3 linked regions of the Homo sapiens genome follow. The protein of the gene in region 2 interacts with the protein of the main gene of each other region in a pairwise test. Each region holds a gene or a part of one and is shown on either strand. Other genes may lie near its edges.

Region 1 (3,500 bases), about 110 Mb from region 2:
CAGGTATGTCTTTATCAGCAGCATGAAAACAGACTAATACACTACATAATAAAGACTAAAATTCAAAGTGTTCTGTTAAAGTCTACTTAGTGATTACAACTATTTTGTGCAACATTTTAACATTTAAGATGATAAAATCAAAACCAAGCACATATAATGAGTAGACAAGACTATTTCTATTACAACAAGTTAGGCTTAGCAAAAGTATATTCTTTAACACAAAAGGAGGAAACATGTCCCAGTTGGCTCAATAATGGTTTCTAAAGCAAGCTATCAAATTTCTCCACAGTAACTGTTACTACCATAAATTTTTTAGCTTCTCAAATTAGAATACAAGAACGCTTAAACCCCAGGATCAGCATAGTATAATTCTCTAAAGCAATAATTTTAACTTGCAGATTTAGAAGACAGAAAAATTTTGAATTAATTCTTATAATAAAAATCAGTTTGAAAGATAAGAGTTGACTATAGTAACTGTGAATTAATTTTTAAGTGAAAAACTAGAGCACTAAATGGTAAAGAACAAAAAGAAGACCATTAGTCATCTTTCCTTCATGAAAGTCTCTCGATCCGTATTTCTCTGAGACAGAAAAAGAAACGTAGCGATAGTTCAGAGACCATCTCTGACACAAGTAACTTGACCTCTTGGCAAGCTACTACTGATATTTCCAGTAACAGAAGCCTGACCATTTTGCACCCTACCACCTCCTACTGCTTTCCTTTATACCTACCCTCAATGCATCAGCCACAATTCTAAAGACTAGCTTACCCCTTGATAGAGAAAAATCAAGTTATACCACTGTTGAAAGTACCTTAGGCAAAACTTAAAAACCCAAGTGCCATGGCCAGGCGCAGTGGTTCACGCATATAATCCCAGCACTTTGGGAGGCCGAGGCGGGCGGATCACCTGAGGTTGGGAGTTTGAGACCAGCCTGACCAACATGGAGAAACTCCATCTCTACTAAAAATACAAAATTAGCCCAGTGTGGTGTCAAATGCGTGTAATCCCAGCTACTTGGGAGGCTGAGACAGGAGAATTGCTTGAACTCAGTAGGTGGCGGTTGCAGTGAGCCAAGATTACACCACCGCACTCATCTGGACAACAAGAGCGAAACTCCGTCTCAAAAAAAATAAACACCCAAGTGCCATTCACGTAAAATATAAAGGTTACCAAATCACATGCTATAAAACTAACTTTTAAGATTAAAAATCTGTGAAAACAGCAACTAAAAGTAACTAACTGCATTTTTAATAAAATGCAAACTTGGCTCCTTATCTTTACGATCTGTCAAACTCTTAACTCTTCCTTCAAGGCTCAACTTGAGCCTGCCTTTTCCCCAGATTAGGTCCCCTGTTATTCTCATTAAACACTGCATTTTTACTTCATAGCACTTTAACAAGATTTTATTTAAGAATTTTGTAACTTTTCTGTATACATTAGAATGTAGGCCTCCTATAAGGGCAGGAATTGTGTCTAAACAATGGTTATATTCCTGCAATTTAGGCACAAATTTTAACACTGCAGGCATTCACTTGTTACTGCTTCAATGAACAAATGCCTTTTCAGAGACCTGTGTTAATACAGATTTTTGTTTTGGGGTTTTTTGTTTTTTGTTTTTTTAATAGCAAAATCTCTGCTTAGGAAAAGGTGTAAAACGAAAATCTATCAGAAAATACTCCATTCAGGCCAGGTGCGGGGGCTCACGCCTGTAATCTCCGCACTTTGGGAGGCCGAGGTGGGTGAATCATGAGGTCAGGTGATTGAGACCATCCTGCCTAACAGGGTGAAACCCCGTCTCTACTAAAAATACAAAAAAATTAGCCAGGTGTGGTGGTGGGCGCCTGTAGTCCCAGCCACTTGGGAGGCTAAGGCAGGAGAATGGCGTCAACCCGGGAGGCAGAGCTTGCAGTGAGCCAAGTTCACACCACTGCACACCAGCCTGGGCAACAGAGTGAGACTCCATCTCAAAAAAAAAAAAAAAAAAAGAAAAAAGAAAAAAAGCACTCCATTCAAACTGACAATATTCAGATCCCGAATGAGCCAAAGTGTGTCACACAGAGACTAAGCTTGAACTGTAGAGCATTCCAGCAAATTAAAGTAATTGAGCAACAGTAAAGAAGATGACATTCACTGCAGATAAATTCAAGTGAGTGCATGCTGGCAAGACTTTACAACTTTACCCTACACCTACAGAAAGCTATGAAGTCATACAGAAACCACCCAAGAAAAACAAATGTGTTTTTCAGAGTATTTCAGTGATGTCAGAATTCACATTGAAGGAATAAACAGAATAACACTTTGTAGGAAATAAAATTTGAGCAGTCGACGTACATTTAATCTAGATTTAATATTACTGGAGCTATTCAATTGTTTAAGTAGCAAAACTAGTCCTAAAACAGAATCTAACTTTTCTATCCAAACCCCTATTCTATGCTTGCAGAAAACTAGGGAACAACTCTGAGAATGCACTTAGGGGCCCAAAAGCTCAACTTTCTTTAGAATGAGAATATTCATGACATTGTAAAGCATATCCTAAGCTTATATAAAATGGAAGCAGGCCAAAGCAGGTGGATCACTTGAGGCAAGGAGTTTGAGACCAGCCTGGCCAACATGGTGAAACCCTGTATCTACTAAAAATACAAAAATTAGCCAGGCATGGTGGCGCACACCTGTAATCCCTATAATCCCAGCTACTCGGGAAGCTGAGGCATGAAATGGCGCAACTGCACTCCAGCCAGGGCAACAGAGCAAGACTCTGTCTCAAAAAAAGGAAAAAAAAAAAATAGGAAGCAAAAATCGTGGTTGGTCTCAAAGTTACTGCTATCATATGTAAAATTTTTAATAATACTTTTTAGACAAAAATTTGTGGATAACTTGAAGTTCACAGAAGTCAAAATCTATTCTCAGACTACCCTTTTCTCACTGATTTATTGATTAAAAACTAATTTTAGGCAACAAATTCAAGAGAAACTAGAACTGAAAAATAACTTTGTAAGGTCAGGAACTTTCTGACTCTGGTTGCTGCCTGAGAAGTAAACTATATAGGTGGGCCAGGTGCAGTGGTTCACACCTGTAATTCCAGCACTTTGGGAGGCCAAGGTGGGAAGATCACTTGAAGCCAGGAGTTCAAGACCAACCTGGGCAACACCAAGAGACCCCCATTCTCTACAAAAAATTAAACATTAGTCAGGCACAGTGATACACGCCTATAATCCCAGCTACGCGGGGAGCTGAGGCAGGAGGATCACTTGAGCCCAAGAAGTTGAGGCTGCAGTGAGCCACGACTGTGCCACTGCACTCCAGCCTAGGCAACAGAGCAAGACCCTGCCTTTTTTAGAAAAAAAAAAGATACAGGTGGCTACCATGCTTACAGGCTAGTTCTTTCAGAAACCAATATGAAATTTTATGCAGCAGAAATTTTCCACAACCAGTCTAGGCTTCTGAAAGGAAGAAAAAGAACAAAAAATTAACCTATGTATATTTTCTAGGATGAACATCT
Region 2 (3,727 bases):
TGCAACCTCCGTGCCCCCCAGGTTCAAGCGATTCTCCTGCCTCAGCCTCCCGAGTAGCTAGGATTACAGGCACCTGCCACCGTGCCTGGCTAATTTTTGTATTTTTAGTAGAGGCAGGGTTTCACCATCTTGGCCAAGCTGGTCTTGAACTCCTAAACTCATGATCCACCCGCCTCAGCCTCCCAAAGTGCTGGGATTACAGGTATGAGCCACCGCACCCGGCCCACATCCGGCTAATTTTTATATTTTTAGTAGAGATGAGGTTTTGCCATGTTGGCCAGGCTGGTCTCGAACTCTTAACCTCAGGTAATCCACTCGCTTCCACCTTCCAAAGTGCTGGGATTACAGGCATGAGCAACCACACCCAGCCTAAATTCTTTTTTATTTTTATTTTTATTGAGACACAGTGTTGCTCTGTCGCCCAGGCTGGAGCGTAGTGGCACGATCCTGGCTCACTGAAACCTCCGCCTCCTAGGTTCAAGCAATTCTCCTGCCTCAGCCTCCAAAGTGGCTGGGATTACGGGCACCCGCCACCATGCCCAGCTAATTTTTGTATTTTAGTAGAGACGGGATTTCGCCATGTTGGTCAGGATGTACTCAAACTCCTGACCTCAAGCGATCCACAGCATCGGTCTCCCAAAGTGCTAGGATTACAGGCGTGAGCCATCACATCCAGCCAAGATTGTGAGACCAGCCTGGCCAACATGGTGAAACCCCATCTCCACTAAAAATACAAAAACTAACAGGGCATGGTGGCAGCCACCCGTAATCCCAGCTACTCTAGAGGCTGAGGCAGGAGAATTGCTTGAATCCGGGAGGCGGAGGTTGTAGTGAGCTGAGACTGCGCCACTGCACTTCAGCCTGGGGAAAGAGTGAGACTCCACCTCAAAAAATGATAAAAAGGAATGCTAACAGTAGTTATGCCTAGATGATGGAACCACAGAGTAATTAAGTTTCTTCTGTTAAACACTCTTCTGAATTTTCCACAAGTGGTATTAATCTAAGGCTCACGCCTGTAATCCCAGCACTTTCCGAGGCAGGCAGATCACCAGATCAGGAGATCGAGACCATCCTGGCTATCACGGTGAAACCCCGTCTCTACTAAAAATACAAAAAAATTAGCCGGGTGTGGTGTTGGGCGCCTGTAGTCCCAGCTACTCGGGAGGCTGAGGCAGGAGAATGGTGTGAATCTGGGAGGTGGAGCTTGCAGTGAGCCAAGATCGTGCCACTGCACTCCAGCCTGGGCGACAGAGCAAGACTCCGTCTCAAAAAAAAAAAAATCATCTTTTTCTACACAGTGGCTATAGTGTAGTAATGGTAAGACACATAATTCTGGCTGATCATAGTATGATTTTCTTTCAAAATCTGAAAGAAACTAAACCGGCCGAAAGAGGTGGCTCATGCCTGTAATCCCAGCATTTTGGGAGGCCGAGGCAGGCGGATCACCAGGTCAGGAGATCGAGACCATCCTGGCTATCACGGTGAAACCCCATCTCTACTAAAAATACAAGTGGTTATAGTGTAGTAATGGTAACAGACACGTAATTCTGGTTGATCATAGTACGATTTTCTTTCAAAATCTGAAAGAAACTAAACCTGCCGAACGAGGTGGCTCATACCTGTAATCCCAGCACTTTGGGAGGCCGAGGTGGGTGGATCACCTGAGGTCAGTAGTTTGAGACCAGCCTGACCAACATGATGAAACCCCGCCTCTACTAAAAATACAAAAAAAATTAGCCAGGTGTGGTGACACGTGCCTGTAATCCCAGCTACTCGGAAGGCTGAGACAGGAGAATCGCTTGAACCTGGGAGGTGGAGGTTGCAGTGAGCCAAGACCATGCCACTGCACTCCGGCCTGGGCAACAAGGGCAAAACTCCATCTCAAAAAAAAAAAAAAGAAAAAGAAACTAAACCATAAAATACCAAAAACTTGTACAAAATAATGAAGACTTAACTTCAAGATGCTGCACATAAGACACAAAAGTTGAGCCTTCGTAATAAAGAGAAATGGAGAAACTTCTAAAAGAGACAAAAGATTCTTAATTAGCTCCAAGTAAAAGACTTAGTAAGAAGCAATAAAGAAATTAATTAAAGTATTTCTGAAAAACATGCAGCCATGAGGATATCTGAGTGTTCCCAATTTCTGGGACTCTGATGAGACTAATAATGAAAAAAGAAAATACTCTAATGCTCTTGGGGTGTATGAGGTCTGTAAACAAGCATTTACTTCTAAACGCTTTTAAATATAGCTGCATTGTAAAAAAAAAAAAATAAGTAACAATAAAGGAAAGCCAGCCCTCCCTTAAACAGACCCTGGACATTTTTGCTGGTATAAAATCAAATTGTTCACTGGTATCTCCTCTGTATCTCCCTCTTTTTCTTTTTCTTTTTTTTTTTTTGAGATGGAGTCTCACTCTGTCGCCCAGGCTGGAGTGCAATGGTGCGATCTCGGCTCACTGTAAGCTCCACCTCCTGGATTCACACCATTCTCCTGCCTCAGCCTCCCAAGTAGCTGGGACTACAGGCACCCACCACCACGCCCGGCTAATTTTTTTGTATTTTTAGTAGAGACGGGGTTTCGCCGTGTTAGCCAGGATGGTCTCGATCTCCTGACCTCGTGATCCTCAGCCTCCCAAAACTGGGATTACAGGTGTGAGCCACTGCGCCTGGCTCCTCTGTATTTCCTCCTACTGGAGCTTAGCATAGTGCCTGATGCACAGCAATTCTTCACTACATGAGTTATTATTTTTATTATTTTATTATTAGAACATAAGATGGTACCATGGACAAAGGTTACTCCAAAACAACAATCTATTACATTTCTATAGGTCTGTTTGCTAATTTTTTTCTTTTTTCCGTTTAGGTACCAAGGGAAGATCTTATTGCAATCACTGTTTCTTGGGTTTCTTATCCCTGATACCTCTTTTGGGCCCCCTGTATGGCTCTGCAGAGTGAGTCTTCAATCCGTGATGGACTAAAAGAAGTCTGAACTGCCTCAGAACCTTACCTCTTCCTTGGGCTTTGAGGCCCCTCAAGGTTCACATCTACTCCAACAATGGCTCTTCATAGCTTAGTCCAGTTTGAATACATTCATATGGGGCCCGGTGCAGTGGCTCACGCCTGTAATCCCCAGCACTTTGGGAGGCTGAGGTGGGCGGATCACCTGAGGTTGGGAGTTCAAGACCAGTCTGGCCAACGTGGTGAAATCCCATCTCTACCAAAAACACAAAAATTAGCCAGGCGTGGTGGTGGGCACCTGTAACCTCAGCTACTCGGGAGGCTGAGGCAGGAGAATCACTTGCACCCAGCAGCCGGAGGTTGCAGTGAGCCGAGATCGCGCCACTGCACTCCAGCCCGGGCAACAAGAGCAAAACTCTGTCTCAAAAAAATAAAATAAAATAGGCCAGGCACAGTGGCTCACGCCTATAATCCCAGCAGTTTGGGAGGCTGAGGCAGGCAGATCACAAGGAGTTTGAGACCAGCCTAGCTAATATGGTGAAACCCTGTCTCTACTAAAAATACAAAAATTAGCCAGGTGTGGTGCCTGTAGTCCCAGCTACTAGGGAAGCTGAGGCAGGAGAATTACTTGAACCCGGGAGGCGAAGGTTGCAGTGAGCCACGATCGCACCACTGCACTCCAGCCTGGGCAACAGAGCAAGACTCCATCTCAAAAAATAATAAGAAAAATAAATTTAAAAAAAATAAAAATAAAAAAATAGGCCAGGTG
Region 3 (3,496 bases), on a different chromosome or scaffold from region 2:
TTGAGGATGTCTTGGGCACATAGTGGGTAATTAATGAATGTATGTGGGATCAATGCATGAATCACTTAAACTAGAAATGGAAGGAATTGGGTATGTGGCTTGGGTATGTGGCAGACCCTAGGGGTGTGTGTGGGCATGGGGTGGGTGGTCAGAGGCTTTCATGTTCTTCATGTTTGGGGTTGGGGGCAGGTGCCAGGTGGAGGCTTATCTATGACTCATAGGAGGAGGTGATATTTCTAACAATAGCCTTGAGGTAGTGAACTCCCCATCTCTGGGAGTGTGTAAATGGGAAGGGCACTTGTCAGAGGTGGTCTGGGGAGGGGGTGTCCCAACCCAAGGGTGCCTGGGGAGGGGCACAGATCACAGGAGGATGGGTTGACAGGATTAGAACTTAGTGGTCTGTTGGGAGTTATTCATGGGGAAGGTGGGTTTAGGGGGTCAGGATTGGGGTGTCTCAGGGCATGCATCACAGGAGGTGAGTTAGGTCAGCCTGTGGGGCGAGGTGCCCAGGAGTGGATGGGGCAGGCCCTGGAGGAAGGACAGGACAGAGCCGGCTGTAGCAGAGGCTTTACTGCCCCCACGCCCTCCCCAGCTCTGCCCTGGTCAGTAGCATTTGCGGTACACGATATAGGGACCCTGTTCCTCGTACTGCTCCCGCAGGACCCAGCAGGACTGGAAGGCGCGCAGGGAGGCCAGGATGGAGCCCCCGATCCATACGGAGAAATTCCTGGTGGGCTGGGCAGCCACCACCACGTGGGTCTCGGCTGGCAGAGCGCGCAGCAGCTCTGCCCGGAAGCGACCCTCGAAGCCGGTGAAGAGCGAGGACCCACCGCAGAGAAGCACGTTTTGGGCCAAGTCCGCGCGCATCTCCAGTGACAACTTGCGGAGACTCTGCTTGGCCATGGTGGAGAGGCCGACGGGTGACAGCCCCGGGACCTCTGGGGGGTTGAACAGCAGCTCCGGACACTGGAACAGCTCCTTGCCCAGGGTGACCGTGCGCCCATCGGGCAGCTTCAGAGTCCGCTTGTACTCCTGCTCCGGCCGGGCCTGCTCCTTCTGGAAGTCGGAGGCCACGTAGCAATAGTGGTGCTTAATGTTCTCCACTAGGTCCAGGTCCTGCTGTCCCAGGGGCAGGCCGGCCTGGAGCAGCATCTCCGCCAGGAAGGCGGTCAGGTTGTTGCCCGCCAGGTCCAGACGCTCCGTGGCGTGGAGCAGGTTGTAGCCCTGGAAGACGGGCACTGTGTAGGTGACCCCGTGTCCCGTGTCCACCACCAGCCCGCTGACACGACCGTGGGCGTAGACAGACAGCACCGACTGCGATGCCACGTACATGGCTGGGGAGCGCAGCGACTCGAAGGCCACCTCCACTAGCTTCTCGCGGTTGGTGGCCGGGCTGAAGGGTGGGTCGGAGAACAGCAGCGGGTGGTCGTGGGTGGCCACTCGGAGGTCGTGCTCCAGCAGGTGGCGCCAGATGAGCTCGGCGGCATCCCAGTCCACGACGATGCCGCTGCGCAGGGGTTGCACCAGCGTCAGCTCTGGGAGCACGCGGGCTGCCTCGCCGATGAACGTCTGCAGCCCGGACTGCCCCGAGGTGGCGGGTTTCTTGGGCTGGCAGCCCAGGATGGTGGCCACGGTGTAGGTGGGGCTGGCCTGCCCAGCAAAACCTACCTTACAGGTGCCTGTGCCCATGTCAATAACCACCGCGCCGGTCTTTGGTGGCAGCCTGTCGGCCACCATGCCGGGGGAGTCCCGCTGCAGGGGCTTGTTCACCACGTTGGGACTGGGGTTTGGGCCGGGCCTGGGGGCCTCCAGGGAGGACTGGGATTCCGAGGACTTGGGGCGACTTGCATCCATGGTTGCGGGACGCCAGGTGAGGGGGCTTTTCCTCTGGGGTTGGGGTTGCGGGGAGAAGAGGTTGAGGCCCGGCCAGTGGGGAGGGCAGGCAGACAGGGGGAGGGGTGGGCCCGCAATCTATGACGTCACGGTGCCCCTTCAGTCTTCTTAAGACATCACAATGCAGCCAAGAGGATGGGTCCCTGCCCAGCCCTGCCTGCCCAAAGGCTGTCATCTCTTCTCTGAAGAGCCAAATTTGGAGGAGGAGATGAGCATCTCAGAGCAGGGCCCTCTTAACACATTTCTGTCGGATGCGCTAGAAGCTAATACGATGGCACCTGGTTTTTGAGAAAAGACAAGCTTTTTGTTGCATGTCAACCCACTGGGAGCTAGGAATCCAGCACAAGTCTGTTTCTCAGCTGGCTTTAAGGCAGTAATTTTATTAGAAAAGTTCTGGGGCCGGGGGCTGTGGCTCACACCTGTAATCCCAGCACTTTGGGAGACCGAGGTGGGAGATCACCTGAGGTCAGGAGTTCGAGACCAGCCTGGCCAACATGGTGAAACCCGTCTCTACCAAAAAATACAAAAATTAGCCTGGCATGGTGGCGCATGCCTGTGGTCCCAGCTACTGGGGAGGCTGAGGCAGGAGAATCACTTGAACCCAGGAGGTGGAGGTTGAAGTGAACCAAGATCATGCCACCGCACTCCAGGCTGGGGGATGGAGTGAGACTCTGTCTCAAAAGAAAAAGAAAATAAAAGAAAAAAAATTAGCCAGGCATGGTGGCACATGCCTGTAGTCCCAGCTACTAGGGAGGCTGAGGCAGGAGAATCTCTTGAACCCGGGAGGTGGAGGTTGCAGCGAGCCAAGATCATGCTACTGCACTCCAGCCTGTATGACAGAGCGAGACTCATCTCAAAACAAACAAACAAACAAACAAAGAAACAAACAAAAAACCCTCATAAGTGGAAGGCATTTCAGCAAGTTGTTTCTTTTTTGATCTGCCATTCTGCAAGCTCAAACATTTCTTTGGGGCATGGTTTCACTAAAAACATGCAAAATTGGTTTCTCTAACTCTTTGGGCCACGCTTTCAGGAAGACCCAGGAATCCTCCTCTGGGTACCTCGCCATGAAGCTATTTACAGCCTAGTGGCAGAGAGCTTGCCACAGGCCTCCCTAGAATATTAGAATATTCCTCCTCAGAATATTAATTAGAAGGTGGGGCGGGCTAGCATGGCTTCCTGGTTTCCAAATGGAGACAGAGGCCAGCCTTGGTTGGGGATGGAGAGAGGCAGGGAGAGACAGGAACACCCCTGTCCTAGATTCTTTGCTTCCTCTGCTATATTCACTGCCTGAATCATTCTCCCTGTCCCATTCCTGCCAAGAAGGAATTTGCCTCTTCAAATCTCAGTCTGATGCCACCTCCTCCTGGAAGCCAACCCTGATTTCTACTCTGTACTCCAACTAGATGAGGGATGGGGGAAGTCTGCCTTCTCTCCAGGGGTTGTTACCTGCTTCCTCCTGGCAGGAGAGGGGCTCAGTGAGATACAAGAAGGGGTTTCAGTATAGATAAAAGGGGAGAGGGTGCATTTGGGAGGAAGGAATTATCTCAACAATAAATAGCAGGCTTCAAAATGCATTAGGAGAGTTGCTTCAAGACCATGG

Evidence for each region.
Region 1: the proteins of QRICH1 (region 2) and TRIM59 interact in a two-hybrid assay, tested with the Homo sapiens proteins (one large-scale study listed by BioGRID).
Region 3: the proteins of QRICH1 (region 2) and ACTL9 interact in a two-hybrid assay, tested with the Homo sapiens proteins (one large-scale study listed by BioGRID).

Annotation. Positions count from the first base shown.
Region 1 is NC_000003.12:160,439,787-160,443,286, forward strand, and holds part of TRIM59 (tripartite motif-containing protein 59), read right to left. Parts: intron 1-3,500. UniProt on the Homo sapiens protein: E3 ubiquitin ligase involved in different processes such as development and immune response. Serves as a negative regulator for innate immune signaling pathways by suppressing RLR-induced activation of IRF3/7 and NF-kappa-B via interaction with adapter ECSIT.
Region 2 is NC_000003.12:49,083,876-49,087,602, forward strand, and holds part of QRICH1 (transcriptional regulator QRICH1), read right to left. Parts: intron 1-3,727. UniProt on the Homo sapiens protein: Transcriptional regulator that acts as a mediator of the integrated stress response (ISR) through transcriptional control of protein homeostasis under conditions of ER stress.
Region 3 is NC_000019.10:8,696,848-8,700,343, forward strand, and holds ACTL9 (actin-like protein 9), read right to left. Parts: upstream 1,949-3,496; 5' UTR 1,855-1,948; coding exon 604-1,854; 3' UTR 553-603; downstream 1-552. UniProt on the Homo sapiens protein: Testis-specic protein that plays an important role in fusion of proacrosomal vesicles and perinuclear theca formation.